Regions from separate parts of the Homo sapiens genome. Here all the other regions are linked to region 2. The links come from fine-mapping of genetic effects on gene expression. A gene starts in region 2. Each other region holds a variant in brackets. All regions are shown on one strand. Distances are between the middles of the regions. Region 1 overlaps ZNF385C (zinc finger protein 385C). Region 2 holds the start of CNP (2'',3''-cyclic nucleotide 3'' phosphodiesterase). Region 3 overlaps ZNF385C (zinc finger protein 385C). Region 4 overlaps ODAD4 (outer dynein arm docking complex subunit 4).

Region 1 (4,157 bases), 76 kb after region 2:
GCTGCCCGGAGCTCAGGGACCAAGTGGGAACTAGGGCCACCATGGAGGCGGAATAGGGCATCCAATATGCTCTCATATTGACCCAAGTAGGCCGGGGGCTCAGGATCTGTCCGGCCAGGGAGACAATGCAGCTCTGCCAGCAGTGGGCAAGTGGCCCGGAGCTGTGGGCCCACACTCCCCAGGCGCTCACTGGGGAGGCTTGAGCTGAGCCAGGCCAGCTTGGGTGCAGATACGCCGAAAGCCTGCAGGATGTCCAAGAGCTGGCCAGCAGTGGCCTCGCCCTCCTGTAGCTCCACACTGCCCAGGAAGGTGGTGGCGGGCTGGCCATCACAGGGGGACACTGAAGTGGCAAACAGGGCCAGGCTGTGTGACTCCGGCCAGTCTCTGGTCTCGTCCAACACCAGCCCCACATATGGGGATGCCTTCAGGCGCTGGCAGGCCTCTGTGTGCAAGACACTGGCAATGGCCACCTGGGACAGCCAGGGAAAGAAAGGGAGGGAGGACTGAGTTAGGCTTGTCCTGAGAGGCGGAGGCAGGCAGTGCGGGGTGGTGGAAAGAGCCCAGGCCTTGAGGTTAGACAGACTTAGGGACTAATCCTGGCTTTGCCACTTACTGGCTGTGCTACCTTCGGCCAGTCACTTCACCTCTCCGAGCCTCAGTTTTCTCATCTCTACAGCTCCTGGCCTGTCTAAGAATATCCTCCCACCCCGGCCTCCCACCACACCCGGTCTAGTTTTCTCAGCTCTTATACCTGCTGTCAGCTAATACCAGCCCGAAATCTTCTCAAAGCTTGTTGTGAATTATAAACATCAACTTTTGTTGTGGTAAAAGCACTTTATGAATCATAAAGAGCTCTAGGAAAGCTAGTTTTTTCACTGTGTTTTTCTATAGCATCATCCTAGTCTGCCCTATTCCTGGGGGTCTCCCTCCACTGTCCAGCTCAGTGATTAACTGATAGGCACACTCACTCCCAACTCCCAACCAGTCACCCTGGGTCCCAGCTGTGTGCTGTTTCTCTATTTGTCATCTCTGTAGGATGAGATCCAACTCCCCCACCTCCAACCCAGCCCATAGGACTTACACAGTTAGTACCTAGGACAGAGCTGCAATTTGCATGCTTCCAGGGGCCATGTGAGTGATATTGAGCTTGGAGAGGGCCAGGGATAAGCCAGAGGGAACACCCTGCTCTCCAACTCCAGCACATCCTGCTCTGAGAGCATGGGGACCTTGCTTTTCAACACAAGTCACAAATCTAGATTTTTATATGTAATCTCCTGAGTTTTTTAAAAGTTGAAACACATTCGAGTTTTTCAAAAACATTATGAAAACCAATTAAACAGGCTCAGCACAGAAAACAGCCCCAAAAGAAAACTAAGTCAAAAGTCATTTCCATTTCCATTCCAGCACTTTGCGGGGCCAAGGCAGGAGGATTGCTTGAGGCCAGGAGCCCAAGACCAGCCTGGGCAACATAATGAGACCCCATCTCTATGTTTAAAAAAAACCAAAAAACAAAAAACAGAGGCCAGGCGCGGTTGCTTACACCTATAATACCAGCACTTTGGAAGGCTGAGGTAGGCAGATCACCTGAGGTCAGGAGTTCGAAACTGGCCTGGCCAACATGGTGATACCCCGTCTCTACTAAAAATACAAAAATTAGCTGAGCGTGGTGGCACATGCCTATATTCCTAGCTAATAGGGAGGCTGAGGCAGGAGAATCACTTGAGCCAGGAAGGCAGAGGTTGCAGTGAGCTGAGATCACGCCACTGCTCTCCAGCCTGGGTGACAGAGTGAGATTCCTCAA[G/GA]AAAAAAAAAAAAAATTAAATACATCTGTGGGTCAATCAAGCCTCCAGGCCACCAGTTTGCAACGTCTGATTTAGGCAGTGAGAAGAGTGCCCCTGTGCCCGCTAAGAGGCCTGGTCTGGCCTCTTCACTGTTGTATCCCTGCAGCTGGCCCAGGACCAGGGACATAGGCTCTCAGGGAAGGTTCTGAAGGGTGAAGATATGAATGAAATGCCCTAGCTGCTCCCCAAGGAGCTGGCATGCTGGGGCTGTTCCCAGGTGGCTCAGTGTCCTCCCTTCCCAAGCCCTTCCCCCATACTTCTGGCTGTCACCCACCTGCATGTCCCTCACCCTCCTGGGACTGTAGTAATCGCCATGCTCTGTGCCCAGCAGTGCCTGGCACAGGTTGAACCTCTGCAGCTCGAGCAGGGCAGAGCAGCGGTCATTGGGCACATCCTCCTTTGCCATGCAGTACACAGTAGTCAGCACAGCCACTTTGGCCGGGTCTAACTCCACCTTGACGCCCCTGGAGGCAGGGGTCGTAGCCAGGCCTGGGCAGGCCCCTCCACCTTCAGCCTGGCCCTCAAAAGGGGGCTGGCCCTGGTTGACAGCCAGAGCCTGGCGGTGGGCTCCTGAGGTCACGTGGCGCAGCAGGGCGTGGCGCTGGAAGTTGTCTGTGCCCACAGTGAAGGCGTTTTCGGCTTTGCCATGCTTGTTCCGTACCAGGGCCTGGCGGCACTCGAGGCAGAACATCAGCTTCCGCTCATAGTCAAAGTCCAGCCAGGTAAACTCCTCTTTCCAGTGCTCGTTGAAGTAACGCTTACACTTCTTGTTGGAGTTGGAGGCCTCTCCCGCTGGTTTCTTCCCTGGGGGCACCATTCTTGCTCTCTCAGCAAGGAACCCCCAACCCCCACCTGAATGCTCTTGCCCCCCTGCCTCCCCCACACACAGGCACCTCCCTTGACAAGGAGAGTTGATGGGGAGGCAGGCTGGGGGCAGCCCGCCAGGCTAACAGGGCCCATCCATCTAAGCCTGGAGAGTTTATTCCTGCTCTGCCGGTGGGAGACTGGAGATGAAAGAGACAGGCAGAGGTGTTAGGGGTCTGTCATGGTAGGGGTGGTTTAGGGTGGAGTGGTAGGCTTCATGCTGCCCACAGAGTCCTCCCAGCTGAGGGGTGGAGGGACTCACTGGGGCAGGGGCTCTGGGCAGTGGGTGGAGTCATGCAAAGGGCCCTAGAGCATTATCCAAAGCAGGGGAGGTATGGGGACCCCAGCCCCCTCCCAGGGTCTCTTTCCACCCAGGACAAGGCACTAATTCGCTTTGACTGATGAAGCATCTCAGAACTGGAAAGGCTGGCATCACCTAGGCAACTGTATTTTATAAAGGGGAAACTGAGTCTGGAGACAGGTAGTGGTTCTCAGGGCCCATGAGGAGTTCATAGTGAACCAGGACTAAAACTCAGAACTCTCAACTCCTAGCCCAAAAGATGACTGTGCCCTTCAGCCCACAGTCATCTATTTCATCAGAAGGAAATCAGGCCAGGCATGGTGGCTCACTCCTATAATCCCAGCACTTTGGGAGGTGGCTCACTTAAGCCCAGGAGTTCAAGACCAGCCTGGGCAACATGGCAAAACCCCATCTCTAAAAAAAAAAAAAAAAAAAAAAATTAGCCAGGCATGGTGGTGCATGTCTAGTCCCAGCTACTGGGGAGGTTGAGGCAGGATTGCTTGAGCCTGGGAGGCAAAGGTTGCAGTGAGCCATGATGGCGCCACTGCATTCCAGACTGGGTAATAGAGCTAGACCCTGTCTCAAAAAAAAAAAAAAAAAAAAAAAAGACGGCCGGGTGGGGTGGCTCATGCCTGTAATCCCAGCACTTTGGGAGGCCGAGGCAGGCAGGTCACCTGAGGTCAGGAGTCCGAGACCAGCCTGACCAACATGGAGAAACCCCATCTCTACTAAAGGTAACAAAATTAGTTGGCATGGTGGCACATGCCTGTAATCCCAGCTACTCGGGAGGCTGAGGCAGGAGAATCGCTTGAACCCGGGAGGCGGAGGTTGCAGTGAGCCGAGATCACGCTATTGCACTCCAACCTGGGCAACAAGAGCAAAACTCTGTCTCAAAAAAAAAAAAAAGAAAGAAAAGAAATCAGCAGAAAGCTGATTCTTTCCAAGACACAGGAAGATTTGCTTTCTCTAAAGCTCCATTCCTTATACACACAGGTGAACACACACTCACACTCATACCCATTGGTACTGTGGTTCTGGGATGGGTAGCCCAGACCTGGGGCCTCAGACTGAAGGCAGCTAGCCAGTTGCCTCTACCTCCCTCACTCTGCCACCTCCCCAGGCACGAGGCCAGGATGAGCAGTTCAGGACTGA
Region 2 (4,157 bases):
CAGATGAGGACGATGAGGCTTTTGGGGAAGCTCTGCAGAGCCCAGCAAGCGGAAAGCAGAGTGTGGAAGCAGGAAAAGCCAGAAGCGATTTGGGAGCAGTTGCCAAGGGCCTGTCAGGAGAATTAGGCACAAGATCAGGAGAAACAGGCAGGAAGCTACTAGAAGCTGGCAGAAGAGAGTCAAGAGAAATTTATAGGAGGCCTTCGGGAGAATTAGAGCAAAGACTCTCAGGAGAATTCAGCAGACAGGAACCAGAAGAACTAAAGAAACTTTCAGAAGTGGGCAGAAGAGAGCCAGAAGAACTGGGAAAAACACAATTTGGAGAAATAGGAGAAACGAAAAAAACAGGAAATGAGATGGAAAAGGAATATGAATGAAGCCATCGGTAGAGATGAGGATCAGGAAGCTGGTGTTCAGAGGGATCATGGGATTTTATTAAACTGGATTTTCAAGCGATTTGTCTGTTATAGGAAAAATGAGGGTTTTACTTCTGCTGCTTTCCATCACTATTTTGCCATTAAATAGGTGTCTTTCACTCTTGCAAACCCTGAGTCTGTCACTTTGCCTCTTCACCCCTGCCCATTCTTGGAAGAGCATCGTGGAAGAAATGAGAAAGGTGCCAAGAAGAAAGGGTTTCAGGAGGGTGAAGATACGGGCGCTACAGGGAACAAGAAGTCACAGGGAGGAGAGGGGAAGGCCTGGGAGGAGAGGTGCTTCCCACACACCGGTGACTGACTGAGTCCCTCCAGTGCGCAGGACAGCGGGGAGGCTTTATGGATGGAACAGTGGTGGGGCGGCCCCAGCTGTCACAGGTAGGAGAATGCCGCAAGCCAGAACCAAGCGAATGCTGGGAGTGAGGCCAAAGATAGGGGAGTGGCCTGGGAGTCGGGAGGGCAGACAGACTCCGCCTCTGACACCTCTGGGTGGCATAATCAGGTAAATCAGGCTCTCCAAGCTGGCTTCTCCTCTGAACAATGGGATACCTGCCTCAGGGGTTGCTGCGAGGACTGAGTGCTTAGCACAGCACTTGGACAGGAAACTCAAAAATCCAACGGAGCTCTCAGTGGTTTCACAGAGGAGGTGGCAGCTGAGGATCTGGCCTCAGAGGATGTTAGGATTTCACTCCGTTACTCATCTGTCCCTTTGGCCATTGCCATCCTGGTCTGTCTCCACAGCTCCTAGAAGGAAAGGTCGGGGCTGAGACTGACTTTCGGCTGGCACAGGGCCTGGACGAATGAGGCCAGTGAGGCATTTCAGATGCAGAGTTTACCGGAATGCCAGCAAATTGCATGATAATATTTTAATCCAATGTGGTAAAAAAAAAAGTTTTTAATTAATGCAAAAGTCCATGATGAATAAAATATCAAAAATTAAAGACAGGATCCGACTTTGCACGACCCTGCCTCACTCACTTCCTGCTAATCCACGGGACCGGGGAGGGTGACTGAGTTACCCCTCAACACGCAGAAAAAGCTAGTGGCCGCTCAGCTCGCAGGCGCAGTGGGTGGGTGCGCGTGGGGAGCAGGCGCGCGCAGGGGGCGGGACCGGGCCGAGGTTCCCGCGCGCGGCGAGAGTTTCGGGTTTTGGTTCGCAGCGCCTGCGCGCAGAGGAGACGGCCCGCCCCCAGCCCGCCCGGGTGCCCGCTCCGCCCCCCGGGCTATGTAAAGCGGCCGGGCTCGGGTCGTGCCACCGCTGGACTCCCGTGTCCCTCCGCGCAGGCGGGCGGCCCCGGAGCGCTGGTGCCGGCAGAGGCGGCGACGGTGGCGCCCCTCCTCATCATGGTGAGAGGCCGGGCGGGGCCGGGCACGGGGTAGCACCAGGGCGGGAAACGAGTGTCGGGGCCCCTCGGGAGGAAGCGTCTTGCAAACGAGGACCCGGGGCTCCGGGTTCGACTTCCAGTTTTCTTGGTACTCAGGGCGGCCCTGAGGTCTGGGAGAAGCGGAGGGGTTTTGGGGTGCCGGAGAGGCCGCTGTAAAGGGAAACGGTGGTGTTTCTCAGGAGGGAACTCGGGACCGCAGAAGCTGCTGCGCCTCTGGGAGCCTGGGTGGGCCTGGGCCGGGAGCCCGGGAGCTGCTCCCGACCCCACGCAGGCCCGCGCTGGGGCAGCCGCTTCGGCGCCCCCTCCCCGGGCCCAGTCTCATCACGCGGAACCGCTGCCCCGCGCCCGGGTGCGGGCGGGAGGTGGAGCCAGTTCAGAGGAGGGGACCCTTTACGGTAAAAGCTGCCGTCCCTTGTGGCTTCTAGAAGATAGGAAAACAAGTGGCTCCGAGAGGCGCTTCTGACACACAGCACAGCGGCGGGTAGAGCTGGATCCTAATTGCAGGTGCCCTGTGCTGCCCTGTTCTGGACAGGCACAAAGACCACGACTTTGTGGGGGCCGGGAGAGGGTAGAGGAGGAGGTGGCAGGCTTGGTGAAAGAGGGCCTTTGTCCAGTGCTCTCCTGCCCTGCCCCCCACCAGCCCTTCTGTGGGACCATTGTACCCGCATGCCAGACAAGAGAGTATTATCTGTTGCGGCCATTGTTGGGGGAAGGGAGGCAGTCTTGGGGTAACCCTTCTCCACTCCCCCCCTTCTCTGTGCACTCAGCCGTGGCAGCTGTGGCTTGGCCCAGACACAGAGACCCCCACCTCCAAAGAGGACGTCCTTAGTAGGTGCCAAGCATATAAGAGTGAGGCCAGTCCCAGAACCGCAGGCTCCTGGCGCGCCCCGCATGCCTCCAGCACGTTTACCTTTCCGAAGTGGCAGGAATGGGGAAAGCGCACGCTTAGGAGAGCTTCAGACAAGCTTCCCTCTTCCTCCTCCACGACCAGAAGCGGAAAGGTGCTCCCGGACCGAAAGGGAAAGAAGGTCCAGCACTGCCCCGCTTGGGAAGGCACCCACAACCAGTCTAGGGACTAGGGGTAAGGCCGGCGGGGAGCCCGCGAATGACCTGGGCTGACATCTCTTCCCCTCCTTACACAGAACAGAGGCTTCTCCCGAAAAAGCCACACATTCCTGCCCAAGATCTTCTTCCGCAAGATGTCATCCTCAGGGGCCAAGGACAAGCCTGAGCTGCAGTTTCCCTTCCTTCAGGATGAGGACACAGTGGCCACGCTGCTAGAGTGCAAGACGCTCTTCATCTTGCGCGGCCTGCCAGGAAGCGGCAAGTCCACGCTGGCACGGGTCATCGTGGACAAGTACCGTGATGGCACCAAGATGGTGTCGGCTGACGCTTACAAGATCACCCCCGGCGCTCGAGGAGCCTTCTCCGAGGAGTACAAGCGGCTCGATGAGGACCTGGCTGCCTACTGCCGCCGCCGGGACATCAGAATTCTTGTGCTTGATGACACCAACCACGAACGGGAACGGCTGGAGCAGCTCTTTGAAATGGCCGACCAGTACCAGTACCAGGTGGTGCTGGTGGAGCCCAAGACGGCGTGGCGGCTGGACTGTGCCCAGCTCAAGGAGAAGAACCAGTGGCAGCTGTCGGCTGATGACCTGAAGAAGCTGAAGCCTGGGCTGGAGAAGGACTTCCTGCCGCTCTACTTCGGCTGGTTCCTGACCAAGAAGAGCTCTGAGACCCTCCGCAAAGCCGGCCAGGTCTTCCTGGAAGAGCTGGGGAACCACAAGGCCTTCAAGAAGGAGCTGCGACAATGTAGGTGGCAGGTTGGGGCCTTATAAGCCCACCTTGCTGGGCACAGGGTGCTGCGGGCAAAGGACCATCATTGTACTCAAAGGATGGAGCACGAAGCAGCAGGAGGCAGAGAGAGGCTCACCTCAGCGGGGGCAGGGGCAAGCGGTGCGTCCCAGTGGTAGCCTTGGGGAGTTGGCAGCACATTGGGAACACGGGGGCTTCCCAGAGCGCCTTTCCTCCCACCACACCTATCCTTCTAGCCCTCTTCTCTCCGACACCCTTTTCCCAGCCTGAATGTAGACCACTGTCCCTTGTCTTGGAGGTGGGAAAAACAAATTACTGTAGTAACAGGAAACATGTCCTCTTCTAATGTAACCTTAGAGGGGGAATCAAGCCCAGTGTTTTCCAACGCATTTTTAGCAGCAGAATCATGTTCCAAAAAATAATAATAATAATCACATGAAATTGTAAGCTGCAAAAAAATTAAAACTAGGACTATTGTGGCTTCACTGGGGATGGTTCTCAGGCCTCGGACTGCTCAATT
Region 3 (4,157 bases), 100 kb after region 2:
CTTGACTTCGTGATCCGCCCACCTCGGCCTCCCAAAGTGCTGGGATTACAAGCGTGAGCCACTGGTGCCCGGCCAATCAGCTGTTATTAACACATAGTGTGTCTGTCTCTTGCAGCTTGTGAGTGAAGTCTGTCACCCTGTGTGTCTGTCATGATGTACCTGGGTCACTGCAAATGTCTGTTACCCCATCGTTTGTTGAGGTGAATCTATGTCACTCACTCTGTGTGCATGTCGTAGTGTAGCTGTGCCATAGTGTGGGTGTCATTGTGCCCAGACCATGAAATGAGACTGTCACTGAACATCTGAGACTCACTATGTGATATTGGTTGAATTATGTCCCCCAAAATTCAATATGTTGACATCCTAATCCCCAGCACTTCCAGAATATGACCTTATTTGGAAATAGGGTCGTTGCAGATGCTATTAAGATAAGGCCAGACTGGTATAGGGTGGGCCCGTAATCCAATATACATGACTGGTGTCCTTATGAAAAGGTGAAATTGACTGGGCGCAGTGGCTCACGCCTGTAATCCCAGCACTTTGGGAGGCCGAGGTGGGTGGATCACGAGATCAGGAGTTCAAGACCAGCCTGGCCAACATGGTGAAACTCTGTCTCCACTAAAAATACAAAAAAATTAGCCAGGCGCGGTGGTGGGTGCCTGTAATCCCAGGTACTCAGGAGGCTGAGGCAAGAGAATTGCTTGAACCTGGGAGGCAGAGGTTGCAGTGAGTCGAGATCGTGCCATGGCACTCAAGCCTAGGTAACAGAGCAAGACTCCGTCTCAGAAAAAAAAAAAAGAGAGAGAGACAGGGTCTTGCTCTGTTGCCCAGGCTGAAGTGGAGCAGTGTGATCATAGCTCACTGTAACCTCAAACACTTGGGCTGAATAGATCCTCCAGCCTCGGGCTCCCAAAGTGCTGGGATCACAGTTATGAGCCACTGCGCCCAGCCTTGCTGACACATATTGATCTTGGACTTTTAGGATCCAGAACTGAGACAATAAACTTCTACTGTTTAAGTGCCACCCAGCCTGTGGCACTTTGTTATGGGAGCCCTAACAAACTAACGCGCCATAGATCTCACCCTGGTGTGGTCATAAGTGCTTGGTGATTTGATGGTCCAAACCCTGCTGCTAGGGTTTGGATGTTGTGGCTGGGCGGCAGTCCCACAGATAGCCTCCAGGTGGCGCAGCAAACATCCAGTGGGAAGGTAGGTGAAGACTCCGTACCCCCTGGGCATGACAGACCCCAGTCCCCACACTCAAGGGGCAATGCAGCTGTCTCCTGGAGCCACACCACGGGTCCAGGGTATAGCTCTTCCCACAGAGGGCACACTGGAGGTCACTGCCATTGTGAGAAGGCCCCATTACTGCATGGAGCCCCCCACCAATATTTTGCACCTTCTCACCTCTAGATGGAGGTCATCACAGCGACTCTCCTGCCTCTCCATGTCCTCCCCAACTCTCCCAGCAGGAGGAGGCAGGAAGAAGGTCTTAGGTGCAAGTGTTGGTGGGGGGAGAGGTCCCATTCCCCGGGTGGAGGCTTCAGAGGAATGAGATTTTCCTGGCCATGCCAAGGAGAGCTGCCTGCCCCGCCAGCATGGGGACAGGGGTATTTTGAAATCTCAGTGCAATTTATGACAGGCGGGCCGGGGACATCGCCCAAGAGAGCAAATATCTGCCACACAGCTGATTAAACCTCTGTGATATATAGCCTCTGGGCTCACGGGGCCGCCTGGATTCTGGGCTAATTGTGTTCCCCCCAGCCAGGCTGCTGGGCCTGCTGCAGCCTGCCCTGCCTGACCCAGCCTTCCCAGCTGTTCCCTTAGGAGCCACACTGCCCCAGCTAAGCTAGGGGAGCCCAGTCAGAAAGTGTGGACGGGTGGGCAGTGACGGGGGCACACAGGTCTGTCTAACCCTGCCCTGAGCATCGGCAGCTCGGCATCCCCAACCCTGGCCCCTACTCAGAGCCAGCATGACCCACGCTAGCAGGACCTACACTTGGACAGGACCTAGTCCACATGCTGCCTTAAGCAGATGGGGAAACTGAGTTCCAGAGCAGGGCAGTGGACTTGCTTCAAAGCAAATGGAAAGACGATGCATGAGCTGATTATAGAGGCTTCCCTGTCTTTCTCTTCGCCCCCCAGCTGCTTACGTCACATCTTCTTTATGAAATAACAACCCCATTTATTGAGGGCTTACTGTGGGCCAGGTGTTTGACAAAAAGGGTCTTTTTTCTTTTTTGG[G/A]GGGGATAGGGTTTGACTACGTTTCCCAGGCTCCAGGCTGGCCTCAAACTTGTAGGGATCAAGTGAACCTCCTGCCCCAGCCTCCCAAGTAGCTGGGATTACCGGCATGTGCCACCATGCCCAAACAGGATCTCTCTTAAACTTCACAATTCCATGAGATGAGCACCATTATTAACCTGTTATCCCACTGCATAGATTAGAGAACAGGCTTTGGGAGGTTCTGTGGCTGGACCTGGACCTATGCTTGTCTGACTCAAAGCCCAAGTCCTTACCCACTGCCCCATCCCACCTCTCCTTAAAGCCTGCCAAATCCTGACCTGAACTGATGGGTGGGGAGGGGGCCACAGATTCAGAGAAGGGCTCTGGGGAGGGGCAGGGTTGTGCAGCCTCTATCAGGCCCTGTGCCTCGCAGAGACGGGCTACACCCTGGGTAGAAAGAGGTGGGGCCAGAGCCAAAGAGGTGGGGAGGAAGGACAAGGGGAAAGCAGAGAAAAAGCGTGTATGTACCCATCCATCTGTCTGTCTGTCTGTCTGGGATTTCTACAGGAAGCTGGTTAAATCTCCCTCTGTTCCCTGTCTTCCCTGAGAGATGGGCTGAGGCTGCTGCAGAGAGGGTAGGGGTTGGGCCCTGGGAGGGAGCCACCCACTTGGAGGCAGGCTCACACTACCTGTGCTGGAGAGCTGTGTAGCCCAGTTTCTGTCTGCCTGTCTGCCTGTGTGTCCATCAATGTGGAGCTGGGGGGTGGGTTGGGGGGAGCACGCAGGCAGGGCTCTGGGGTCCCATCTCCACCACTTCTGGTTGGGTGACAAATGCACGTGAGGTCCCTGGGTTTCCATGGGGTCCTTGGCCACCGTGAGGTGATGAGATTCCCTGCCTGTCCATCCAGAGAGGGCTGAATGGAGGGGACTGTGGAGGCCAGAAAACAGGCAGCAGACGGTTGTTTCTGCTGCAGCCTGGGAAAGGAGTCCTCCAGAAAAGGCTGCTTCTCCTAAAGAGGTAACCGGAGAGGAAGGTTCGAGACCTGTCCCCAGCCTTTGGCAGAGCATGAAGGGTTCCCTCCTCAAACCCTTAACAAGCCCAGTTACCCTCTGGCATTTTCCTCCATGTCAGCCAACAGCCACCCTCCCGCCTCCCCAGCCTACTTCCCAGACCAGGCCAGGCTGGCTGGCCGGCCAAACTTGGGCCAGACCCTGCCTCGCTGGGCTTTGGTTTCCTGTCTTTAAAGAGAGGGGGCCAGGCGTGGTGGCTCTTGCCTGTAATCCCAGCACTTTGGGAGGCCAAGGCAGGTGGATCACCTGAGGCTGGGAGTTTGAGACCAGCCTGGCCAACATGGTGAAACCCCGTCTCTACTAAAGATACAAAAATTAGCCAACATGGTGGTGAGTGCCTGTAATCCCAACTACTCGGGAGGCTGAGGCAGGAGAATTGCTTGAACCTGGGAGGCAGAGGTTGCAATGAGCCGAGATTGCACCACTGCACTCCAGCCCCAGAGACAATGAAACTCCGTCTCAAAAAAATAAATAAGTAAAAAATAGCAGGGCGCGGTGGCTCACGCCTGTAATCCCAGCACTTTGGGAGGCCGAGGCGGGCGGATCATGAGGTCAGGAGATCGAGACCATCCTGGCTAACACGATGAAACCCCATCTCTACCAAAAATACAAAAAAATTAGCCAGGCGTGGTGGCAGGTGCCTGTAGTCCCACTACTCAGGAGGCTGAGGCAGGAGAATGGCGTGAACCCGGGAGGCGGAGCTTGCAGTGAGCCGAGATCGCGCCACTGCACTCCAGCCTGTGCGACAGAGCGAGACTCCATCTCAAAAAAGTAAAAAATAAAATAAAATAGATAAGAGAGGGGATTGGGCTCCTAGGTCCTTTGCAGGCTGAATTGCAGTGGCCACACAGAGCCGCTACTGC
Region 4 (4,157 bases), 27 kb before region 2:
CATGTGTAGGGTTCCCTGTTCTGTGACACAGGAACAGCTTCACTGCTGGCACATCTCCTTAGCAACAGGCCTGAATGCCTCCTATTCTCCAGAGGACCCGCTGCGGAGGGAAGAGGTGGCTTGAATATTACCTCAAGTGGCCTTGTAGCTTTGCTTCTGGCTGTAACCTCTGGCCAGGCAGTGGGCAGGACTTGGGCACCCGCCTTCCAGCTTCCAGCATGCACAGGCCCACTGGGCACCTGGGAAATCACTGGGCACTGGCAGCCTGGGCCAGATCGTGCATTTAGACTCAGTGTTATCTGAGGACACAGCTTGAACTGGGGAAGCCCCGAGGCTTCTCAGCGAGCCATCCACCAGCTGCCCCTTCTGGCTAGCTCCTCATATCTTGCCATAAGGGGCCCATAGCATGGAACTCCCTGATAGTGGGGCTCTGGCTGCCTCCTGGCCTGGATAAACCCACTCTGCCACTATGCGCACTCACACTCCTCTCTGTTTCAACAACTCCAAGCAGAGCAAGTTCACAGAGGGCCCTGCAGCGGCCACCGGGAGGAAACAGGAGGCAAATCCCTTAGAGGCCTGTTCTCCTTGGCGCCTCCTCACACCCCTTCCCCACAGACCTGATCAAAGGCACCATGAAGGGCGGCCTGACTGTGGAGGACCTCATCATGACGGGCATCAACTACCTGGATACTCACAGCAACTTCTGGAGGCAGCAGAAGCCGATCTACGCCAGGGAGCGGGACCGGAAGCTGATGCAAGAGAAATGGCTGCGGGACCACAAACGCCGTCCCTCACAGACAGCCCATTACATCCTCAAGAGCCTGGAGGACATTGATATGTGTAGGTGTTGTTCTCAGAGGGTGGGGCAGGTGCCTCCAGTGCCTTATCAGGTGGGGAAGGAGCAACCAGGTGTCTGAGCCCCTGGTCTCTCAGACCTGCAGATGGTGTCTGCAGGAAGAGGAGTTACCCTGTCAGCTAAGAGGAGGCTGCCCTGGCCTCCACAGCACCCCTTTCCTTTCTCAGTGCTCACAAGTGGCAGTGCTGAAGGGAGTCTTCAGAAAGCTGAGAAAGTGCTGAAGAAGGTACTGGAATGGAACAAGGAAGAGGTACCCAACAAGGATGAACTGGTTGGAAACTTGTATAGCTGCATAGGGAATGCCCAGATTGAGCTGGGGCAGATGGAGGCAGCCCTGCAGAGCCACAGAAAGGACCTGGAGATCGCCAAGGAATAGTGAGTGCCCTAGGGGAGGCCACTGGCGTGAGCCTACGGAGAAGGACACCTGGGGCTATCTGAGGCCCTTGCCAGGGCTGCTGGTGGCTTGACTCCCATTTTCTGCTCTGCATGCCTGAGGTAGATTCTCCTGGAGGTGGGGACCACCTGCCCAGGACTGAGGGTGGGGGCACCTAGACTGTTAGCTTTTTTGCCACCAAAAGGGTAGTGGCTCAAAATTCCAAAAAGCTACCCAATGATCTGGCTCTTAGGGATGTTTATATTCTTACATCAGCTTAACGAGCATGCATGAAGCCCCAGACATGCCAGATGCTGCTAGTGTGGGAACACAGTAATAACCAGACACAAGGGCCATTTCCCTGCAGATGTCAAGCAAAAAGGGACATAGCTAATTAATTGCAATTGTGATAAGTGCCATGAAAGAAAAGTACAGGATCCAGTGTGGTGAGAAATACATTCCAGGAGGACTTGATGACATTGGGGAACACACAGGGCCTATGGAAAGGCCCTGAGACAGGAGGGTACTTAAGCCTGGAGAGCACAGCATATTGCCAGGGAGAGGGGCCAAGAGGAGGCTGAAGGAAGTGGGCAGGGGATGGATCAAGCAGGGTCTTTTAAAACCGGTGCTGATCAAGAGCACGGGCTGTGGAGTCAGGCAGACCTAGGCTGTGGAACTTGCACCGCCCAGCCGTGGAACCTGAGATAAGCCACTTTAGCTCCCTCAGCCTCAGGGTCTCCTCCTGTTAGCTGGGCACCCTGTAGGGCAGAAGGGAGGATGAAATACAGAAGTACCTGTGCAGACCTTAGGACAGTGCCTGGTATCCACAATAGTAGTAACACCAGCTCTCCAGAAATGAGATCTTCTCAAGACTTGCTGACTTCCACCCGGAGGTTCCATCGCTTTCTCAGCATCCTGGTTCTACCCTTTGGAGTCATTCTTGACTTCCTCCTGCCTGGTTTCTACCCATCTCACCAGTCTGAGCCTCCTTGATCTCCCATCATCCCATTTGCCCTCACAGTGCCCAGCCCTCAGCCGACCTGAGTCCT[G/A]CTGCTTCCCCTGCCTCTGCTGTCTCTCTCCAGCTCCTCCCACAAATCTCCAGAGACACATGCTATGAACTCTCCCTCCCCTGCTCACAAGTGGGCCTGGGCCCCTCACTGCCTGCAGGTTAAAGGTCAAGCCCCTTTGCTTGGCCCTCAGGCCCTCTCTAAACCCACCCTGGCCCTCTTATAGCAATCTTCCCTTGGGGTCAAACGTTCCTGAACATTCCTGCCTCCTGCCCTTTCCTCTTCACTGATCCAAGCCCCATATGCTTTCCATTCCCAGTTCATTTCTCGCCTGCCTCCACTGTGCTGAGCAGGAATATCCCATACTGGCCATCCCATATTAGAAAAAAATAGCTTTAGGGACAGACCTGTCTTCGATCCCTGTCTTCTAACTGGCTCTGCCACTTAGAAGCTGTGTGGATTTGATTAAGTTGCTCCTCTACTCAGTTTCCTCATCTCTAATGAAGGCATAATAATACCAACCCACAGGGACTGTGGGGATTAGATGTGATGTATATATATGGTACCTTGGATCCAACCATCTCCCATGCACAAATGAGTTAGAAATCTTTACTTCTCGCCAGACCTCTCTCCTGAGCCTCAGACCTGTGTGTCCAGCAGATTCTAAGACATTTCCATCTGGATGTCCCACAGGAATCCTAAACTTAACATGTCCAAATCGGAATCCCTTATCTTCCTCCCAAACTTACTTCTTGAGGGTTCCCCATCCCCGAGGATAGCACTGTTGGCCACTGAGTCCCAAGCCAGAAGACCGGAGGCTTCCCAGATACCTCCTTCCCCTCTCTGTTTTTGCCATATCGCTCAAGTTGGTCTGGATGACAGGCGTGAGCCACTGCGCTTGGCCCCCTCACTGTTCATGCCCAGCAATGGCCATGTCTTGTCCTGTCCATACTTTCTCTGTTTCCCTCCCACAACTCAGTCCAGACCATCCTTACTTCTTGCCTGTTTCCTCTGACCTGGGCTTCCTACAGTTCAGCTGTCCTTTCTCTGAAAAACAACTCCTGTGGTTGGGATGAAATTTCAATGCCCTGCTCAACACAGGTTGCCCTTCTTCACTTGACTTCTCCTGGCCTGTCTTGACCTGGCTTTCTCCAGGCCCCCAGGCATTCTGGGCCCCAGCCAGTGCAGAGCTCTGTGCATATCCTCCAGCCCCAGGAATGCTTTCCCTTTTCCCAGCACTTGCTTTATCAAGCTGCCGCCACCCATTCTTCAACATTTCAATAAAGGTTGAAAAGCCTGCCTCCTAGCCTGAGCGGTGGCTCACGCCTGTAATCCCAGCATTTTGGGAGGCCAAGGTGGGTGGATCACGAGGTCAGGAGATCGAGACCATCCTGGCTAACACGGTGAAACCCCATCTCTACTAAAAATACAAAAAAAATTAGCCGGGCGTAGTGTTAGCCGGGTGTGGTGGTGTGCGCCTGTAGTCCCAGCTACTTGGGAGGCTGAGGCAGGAGAATGGCGTGAACCCAGGAGGCGGAGCTTGCAGTGAGCCGAGATAGTGACTGGGCGACAGAGCGAGACTCCGTCTCAAAAAAAAAAAAAAAAAGAGAGAAAAGAAAAGCCTGCCTGCTGCCCCAGGGGTTACAAATCCCTCCCCTAGGCTCCCTCTCCACAGGTAGCCTTTCTGTCCTGTTAGACTTTGGACTTTGGAAGGTGCTATTCCCAGCATCTGCCACACAGTGGGCATGTAATGAATGTGTGCTAAGTGACTGAATAATTTGAGATGGAGTTTCACTCTTCTTGCCCAGGCTGGAGTGCAATGGAGTGATCTCGGCTCACTGCAACCTGCAACCTCCGCCTCCCTGGTTCAAGTGATTCTTCTGCCTCAGCCTCCCAAGTAGCTGGGATTATTGGCAGCCCG

What was found. PIP is the estimated chance that this variant, and not a neighbour inherited with it, causes the effect. A credible set is the group of variants that fine-mapping cannot tell apart.
Region 1: its variant is the best candidate, but not a certain one, in a credible set for the expression of CNP in whole blood (INTERVAL, PIP 0.54).
Region 3: its variant is the best candidate, but not a certain one, in a credible set for the expression of CNP in whole blood (INTERVAL, PIP 0.64).
Region 4: its variant is the best candidate, but not a certain one, in a credible set for the expression of CNP in blood mononuclear cells (TOPMed, PIP 0.51).

Annotation. Positions count from the first base shown.
Region 1 is chr17:42,040,720-42,044,876 of GRCh38, forward strand. All of the region lies in intron 2 of ZNF385C (zinc finger protein 385C), which reads right to left. It overlaps C17orf113 (chromosome 17 open reading frame 113), which reads right to left. Exons shown (of 3, transcript NM_001358661.2): 2 at 2,115-2,844; 3 at 1-470. The coding sequence starts at 2,657. Among named protein-coding and RNA genes, the nearest start is that of C17orf113, 7.8 kb to the right of the region's middle. The variant G/GA (reference allele first, on the strand shown) is at 1,802.
Region 2 is chr17:41,965,107-41,969,263 of GRCh38, forward strand. It overlaps CNP (2'',3''-cyclic nucleotide 3'' phosphodiesterase), which reads left to right and starts at 1,689. Exons shown (of 4, transcript NM_033133.5): 1 at 1,689-1,781; 2 at 2,962-3,634. The coding sequence starts at 1,779. ODAD4 (outer dynein arm docking complex subunit 4) reads left to right here. Exons shown (of 12, transcript NM_031421.5): 12 at 1-1,397. The coding sequence ends at 377. RefSeq lists enhancers at 962-1,061, 2,163-2,720, 2,721-3,278, 3,279-3,836 and silencers at 1,432-1,871, 2,002-2,191.
Region 3 is chr17:42,066,285-42,070,441 of GRCh38, forward strand. All of the region lies in intron 1 of ZNF385C (zinc finger protein 385C), which reads right to left. Among named protein-coding and RNA genes, the nearest start is that of C17orf113, 18 kb to the left of the region's middle. RefSeq lists a silencer at 967-1,261 and an enhancer at 1,737-2,237. The variant G/A (reference allele first, on the strand shown) is at 2,245.
Region 4 is chr17:41,937,942-41,942,098 of GRCh38, forward strand. It overlaps ODAD4 (outer dynein arm docking complex subunit 4), which reads left to right. Exons shown (of 12, transcript NM_031421.5): 6 at 616-840; 7 at 1,024-1,231. Among named protein-coding and RNA genes, the nearest start is that of ODAD4, 9.4 kb to the left of the region's middle. The variant G/A (reference allele first, on the strand shown) is at 2,279.